Regions from separate parts of the Homo sapiens genome. Here region 2 is linked to region 1. The links come from fine-mapping of genetic effects on gene expression. A gene starts in region 1. The other region holds a variant in brackets. All regions are shown on one strand. Distances are between the middles of the regions.

Region 1 (2,903 bases):
GAGAGTGAGGCAGGAGAATAGGGTGTGGAGGCAGGGAACCTAAGGATGTGTCACTCCGACTTCCTAAGAACTAAATTGAAAGGAAACCCCTAACTTTCCATGCCTAAGTAACAAAAGGACCAGAGGCTACTCCCTTTGCAAACCCCCACTTTTTCTGCAGGGCAGATGGGAAATTGGCTGTGGGCAGCAAATCAGACTGATTGCAGGAGAGTCTTCCTTTGCATAGAAGTATCACTTTGTAACTTCACCATCTGCAAGAAATCAAACTGATTGCAGGGGAAATCTTCCTTTGCATAGAGGTATACCACTTTGTAACTTCACCCTAGCCTCTGATTGATTGCTTTTTGCACCAATGTTTGCACAGGAGCATGACCTTTGTAACTTCACTTCAGCCTCTGGTTGGCTGCTTTCTGCAACCAATCAGACTGATTGCGCGTTACTTCATTTACATGAGGTGAGCATTAGGTGGCCAATAGGAAGCTTCTAGAGGGTATTTGGACTCAAGATTCTGTATCCGGGCCCTTGAGCCGCTGCTCAGGTCGCTTCCGTACAGAGCGTGCTTTAATTTTCAATAAGTCCCTGCTTTTGTTGTTTTGTTGCTTCATTCTTTCTTTGCTTTGCTGGGCGTTTTGTCCAATTCTTTGTTAAAAACGCCAAGAACCTGGACAACTTGCAGTCACGATCCTCTACCGGTGACAATATCATTTAAATATTGGTAGTGGCTTAAGGTAGCAAACATCCCTTTGTGGAACGTTTACTCAGTAAATCCTTAAAAAACAGATCAGAAACAAAAACTGGCCTCCCAGGGATTTGGACTCAGGAGGTGAATTAGGCGCGGAGAGGGCGGAGCCTTTGGGGTTTATGGGCGGAATTGCACAGGGTTTGGCGGGGATCTCTGCTCCGCCTTGGCACTACTCGGCTCCGCTCGCCTCCGCGCGGCTCCCTGGGCTTTCACTCGGCTCTGTTCGGCTCCTGCTCGGGAAGGGTGCGCGGGGGCGAGTCCTGCGCATGCGCCCTCAATTCCTGCTGCTCTCAGGGCTGCGCTCAGCCTCGTGTTTTCACTTCCTTTTCAGAGCTGTATCCGGGTCGCTGCTTTCCCTATTGTCTGAGGCAGCCGCCCTCGCGCTGTGCAATTTCTGGTCTTTCGTTGCTTCTGGTCCAGGCTAATAAAGTTTTTCTTTCTTTAATTTTTTTTCTTCTAGTTTTAACGGGAGAAATTAACTCCCCGGGGCCGCCGGGTTGACTGCGCTGCCTGGGCCGGAGGTCTTCTCCGGCCAGGGAGCGCTGTGGGAAGGGGCTCGAGCGGCCAGGGCCAGGCGAGGCCGGGGGGGCGGGGGGTTAGGGGACCGCGGGGCTACTCTTGGGAGCGCCCCTGTCCGGCTGGCTGCGCGCCGGTTTTAAATAGCATCTTTCGGACTTGTCTTCGCGGCCCCAGTCCCCGACCTCGGCGCTGCCTGGGCTCCTGCAGCCTCTCCCTAAGTCTTCTCCAAACGACCACCTCACGGATTCCTTAGTAAGTGTATCCGAGGCCTCTGCGGCGAGAGGTCCATTTCAGCCATTCTAGAAGTCAGGGCCGGTGGGAGCAGGGCAGGGGTGGGAGAGTCCTGCGGGAAAGCAGGATTGGTGGACCCTCGCCCTCCATGGTCCGCGGGAATGAAGCCCGCTTGTTTTATTCCCTGATTTTTGCCGTTTTTATTGACTGTTACGATGTCTAAGTGGGGGATTACGAGGAAGGTGCAGAAACATCTCGAAAAGATGAGCAAGAGGGTCAGCTTCGATTTTAGCTGGTCTGAGTTGGCGTTGGCAGCATCAGGGCTGGAGCTGCCTTTGAAACTGCCCGTGGAGCTGTCCAGCCCTCCCCACCCTGCTTCTGCACCCCAACCTTCTCCTGACCCCTTTTGCTGAGAACTCAGTTAGACAAAAATTCCTTGTGCGAGGTCATCTTTATGTTCTCTTAGCACCACAACTCTCCCCTGTGTTTGGTGTGATTATGAATGACAATGTAATTTTTTTCTCTTCACAGTGGATCGCAGCTCCAAGAGGAGGCAGGTGAAGCCTTTGGCAGCTTCTCTGCTGGAAGCTCTTGATTATGATAGTTCAGATGACAGTGATTTTAAAGTTGGAGATGCCTCAGGTAAATATTTCCTTCTCTCTTCCCCTTTCCCAGCTTTCTGGAGTTAGGCTTATTTTTAGACTTTTTAAATCGGTTTTGATTAAAATGCCAATTTTAAGTGAAAGCACGTAAACTTCATTTATTTTGTCCATTTGATTTCCCATTTTGCCTTTAGATCCTGTCACTAGACCTATAATTGCTTCTGTTTTCCTCAGAGATAATTAGCAGTCAGGGGAAGGACTTTTTCCAAAGATGCAAAAGGATTTCTCTGTTTTACACCTTAAAATATATTTATGCTTATATTATAGAGGAAAAAACTGAAAGATATCCCGAAGTAGAAAAGTATCCTGAGAGGTGTGTGGACCATTAATAGTCCCTGAGCAGGGTTCTTCTTTTTTCAGATCACTTGACAATCTCTTAGGGGAGTTTTGCTTTTTTTGTGTATTAGCTCTTTTACTAGAATAAAATTGACCAGAGTAAGAGTTGCACTTCAAATTATAGTAGGTGCTGGACCTTGTGGATTGGGCCTTTCAGATGTCTCTGAAGTATAAGTCATGCATGCTTGCTCACTATATTTAGTAATTTTAAAAACTTTTTTTAAAGGTCGTATATTCACATTGTACTAAACTGGAAAACAGAAAAGTATGATTTTCCTTTGTATTTTCTGTTCAGTGTACCTTATGTATATATACAGTTTCAATTGAAGGAATCTGAGAAACAAAAATTATGTTTAATTTAAATGTTTTATGGGAAAAATACTGATAAACATGAACAATGAAAATTATGTGTA
Region 2 (2,903 bases), 20 kb after region 1:
TTGATCACTTGGTTGAGAGGGTGTCTTTCTGGTTTATCTGTGGTAAAGTTATTTTTTCTTACCAATTAATTATTATTATTATTATTATTTTTTAATCAGGGCTGTGACTACCACAAAACAGTATTTCTATGGCCTTTCTCTTACCTGCTTTTCTGGTATTACAGCCCTTGTCCCAAGTAATTCTGGGAGTCTGCTGGACTTGTGGGACTTTGCATGATCTGTGATTCTCTAGCTAATGCTCTGATCTTCATGTGGAGCTGCCCTTTTTTTGCTGCTAACACTCACTGTGGGAATATCTCCAGTTACTGTTATTCATTTATATTTTTAGTAATGTTTGTTGAGTACCTTCTATGTGCTTGGTATTCTGTAAATTTTAGGCATATGAAATAGAATGTACACATTGTTGACCTGGTGGAACTTAATGTCTGGACAGACAGGCAGTAAACAAACCAATAAATATCTCTTAGTTGGTGGCCCAGATTCTGAAGAAAAATGAAGTAGGACAAGGAGTATAGGAATGCTGTGTGTGAGGGTGGTTGGGTGAGTTGCAGAAGTTTGTATTTGTAAAAATTGATAAGGGGCTGGGTACGGTGGCTCATGCCTGTAAATCCCAGCACTTTGGGAGGCCAAGGCAAGCGGATCACCTGAGGTCAGGAGTTTGATATCAGCCTGGCCAAAATGGTGAAACGACGTCTCTGCTAAAAGTACAAAAATTAATCCGGCATGGTGGCACGTGCCTGTAATCCCAGCTACTCTGGAGGCTAAGGCAGGAGATTTGCTGGAACCTAGGAGGTGGAGGCTGCAGTGAGCCAAGATTGCGCCAGTGCACTTTGGCCTGGGTGACAGAGGGTGACTCTGTCTCAAAAAAAAAAAAAAAAAAGTTGTTAAGGGAAATCCACTCTGATAAGAGGATATTTGAGCAGTGACCTGAAGGAAGTAAAGGAGCAAGTCACTTAAATATATTGGGAACGAGCACTGCAAGTGGAGGGAGTAGTGAATGTAAAGATCTCAGCCAAGCACAATGGCCCACGCCTGTAATCCCAGCACTTTGGGAGGCCGAGGCAGTGAATCACTTGAGGTCAGAAGTTCAAGGCCAGCCTGTCCAACATGGTGAAACCCCATCTCTACTAAAAATACAAAAAATTAGCTGGGCATGGTGGCATGTGCCTGTAGTCCTAGTTACTCAGGAGTCTGAGGCAGGAGAATGGCTTGAACCCAGGAGGCAGAGGTTGCAGTGAGCTGAGGTCGAGCCACTGCACTCCAGTCTGGGCAACAGAGTGAGACTCCGTCTCAAAAAAAAAGATCTTGAAGTGGTAGCATGCTTAAGAGTGTTTGTATAATGGCACAGAAGTTTGTATGGCTAGAACTGGGTGAGCAAGCTGGTTAGTGGTGGGAGTAGAGATGGGAGTAATCCAGCTGGGGTCTTGCAGATTCCGGTACTGATTTTAGATTTTATTATTGTGTCCGGAATTGGTGGGTTCTTGGTTTCACTAACTTCAAGAATGAAGCTGTGGATCCTCGCGGTGAGTGTTAACAGTTTTTAAAGGCGGCGTGTCCGGAGTTTGCTCCTTCTGATGTTCGGATGTGTTCGGAGTTTCTTCTTTCTGGTGGGTTCGTGGTCTCGCTGGCTCAGGAGTGAAGCTGCAGACCTTCGCGGTGAGTGTTACAGCTCATAAAGGCAGCGCGTACCCGAAGAGTGAGCAGCAGCAAGATTTATTGCAAAGAGCGAAAGAACAAAGCTTCCACAGTGTGGAAGGGGACCCGAGCGGGTTGCCATTGCTGGCTGGGGCAGCTTGCTCTTATCCCCTTCTCTGGCCCCACCCACATCCTGCTGAT[A/T]GGTCCATTTTACAGAGAGCTGATTGGTCTGTTTTGACAGGGTGCTGATTGGTGTGTTTACAATCCCTGAGATAGACACAAAAGTTCTCCAAGTCCGCACAGAGCACTGATTGGTGCATTTACAAACCTTGAGCTAGACACAGGGTGCAGATTGGTGTGTTACAAACCTTGAGCTAGACACAGAGTGCTGATTGGTGTATTTACAATCCCTTAGCTAGACATAAAGGTTCTCCAAGTCCCCACCAGATTAGCTAGATACAGAGTGCTGATTGGTATATTTACAATCCCTTAGCTAGACATAAAGGTTCTCCAAGTCCCCACCAGATTAGCTAGATACAGAGTGCTGATTGGTGCATTTACAAGCCTTGCGCTAGACACAGAGTGCTGATTGGTGTATTTACAAACCTTGAGCTAGACACAGAGTGCTGATTGGTGTATTTACAATCCCTTAGCTAGACATAAAGGTTCTCCAAGTCCCCACTAGACTCGGGAGCCTAGCTGGCTTCACCCAGTGGATCCCGCACCAGGGCCACATGTGGAGCTGCCCGCCAGTCCCATGCCGTGTGCCCGCATTCCTCAGCCCTTGGGTGGTCGATGGGACCGCGCCACAGAGCGGGGGCAGCACTCATAAGGGAGGCTCAGGCCACGCAGGAGCCCATGGCGGGGTGGGTAAGGCTCAGGCATGGTGGGCTGCAGGTTCCGAGCCCTGCCCCGCAGGGAGGCAGCTGAGGCCCGGCGAGAATTTGAGAGCAGCGCCGGCGGGCCAGCACTGCTGGGGGACCCGGTGCACCCTCCACAGCTGCTGGCCCAGGTGCTAAGCCCCTCACTGCCCGGGGCTGGCAGTGCCCGCCAAGCCCATGCCCACCCGGAACTCGCGCTGGCCCGCAAGCGCCTTGCACAGCCCCGGTTCCCACCCGTGCCTCTCCCTCCACACCTCCCCGCAAGCTGAGGGAGCTGGCTCCACCCTCGGCCAGCCCAGAGAGGGGCTCCCACAGTGCAGCTGCAGGCTGAAGGCTCCTCAAGTGCGGCCAGAGTGGGCGCCAAGGCCGAGGAGGTGCCAAGAGTGA

Direction of the effects. Alleles are on the strand shown, and positions count from the first base shown. SD is a standard deviation of normalised expression in the study named.
With allele A in place of T in region 2, the expression in monocytes after R848 of the gene that starts at base 1,061 in region 1 is higher (moderate effect, 0.56 SD a copy in Quach 2016).

Evidence for each region. PIP is the estimated chance that this variant, and not a neighbour inherited with it, causes the effect.
Region 2: its variant is the best candidate, but not a certain one, in a credible set for the expression of PHF14 in monocytes after R848 (Quach 2016, PIP 0.68).

What each region holds. Positions count from the first base shown.
Region 1 is chr7:10,972,812-10,975,714 of GRCh38, forward strand. It overlaps PHF14 (PHD finger protein 14), which reads left to right and starts at 1,061. Exons shown (of 18, transcript NM_001007157.2): 1 at 1,061-1,513; 2 at 2,024-2,134. The coding sequence starts at 1,513. RefSeq lists silencers at 256-305, 816-875, 1,856-1,905 and an enhancer at 831-1,125.
Region 2 is chr7:10,993,147-10,996,049 of GRCh38, forward strand. The region is part of intron 4 of PHF14 (PHD finger protein 14); the gene reads left to right. Among named protein-coding and RNA genes, the nearest start is that of PHF14, 21 kb to the left of the region's middle. The variant A/T (reference allele first, on the strand shown) is at 1,837.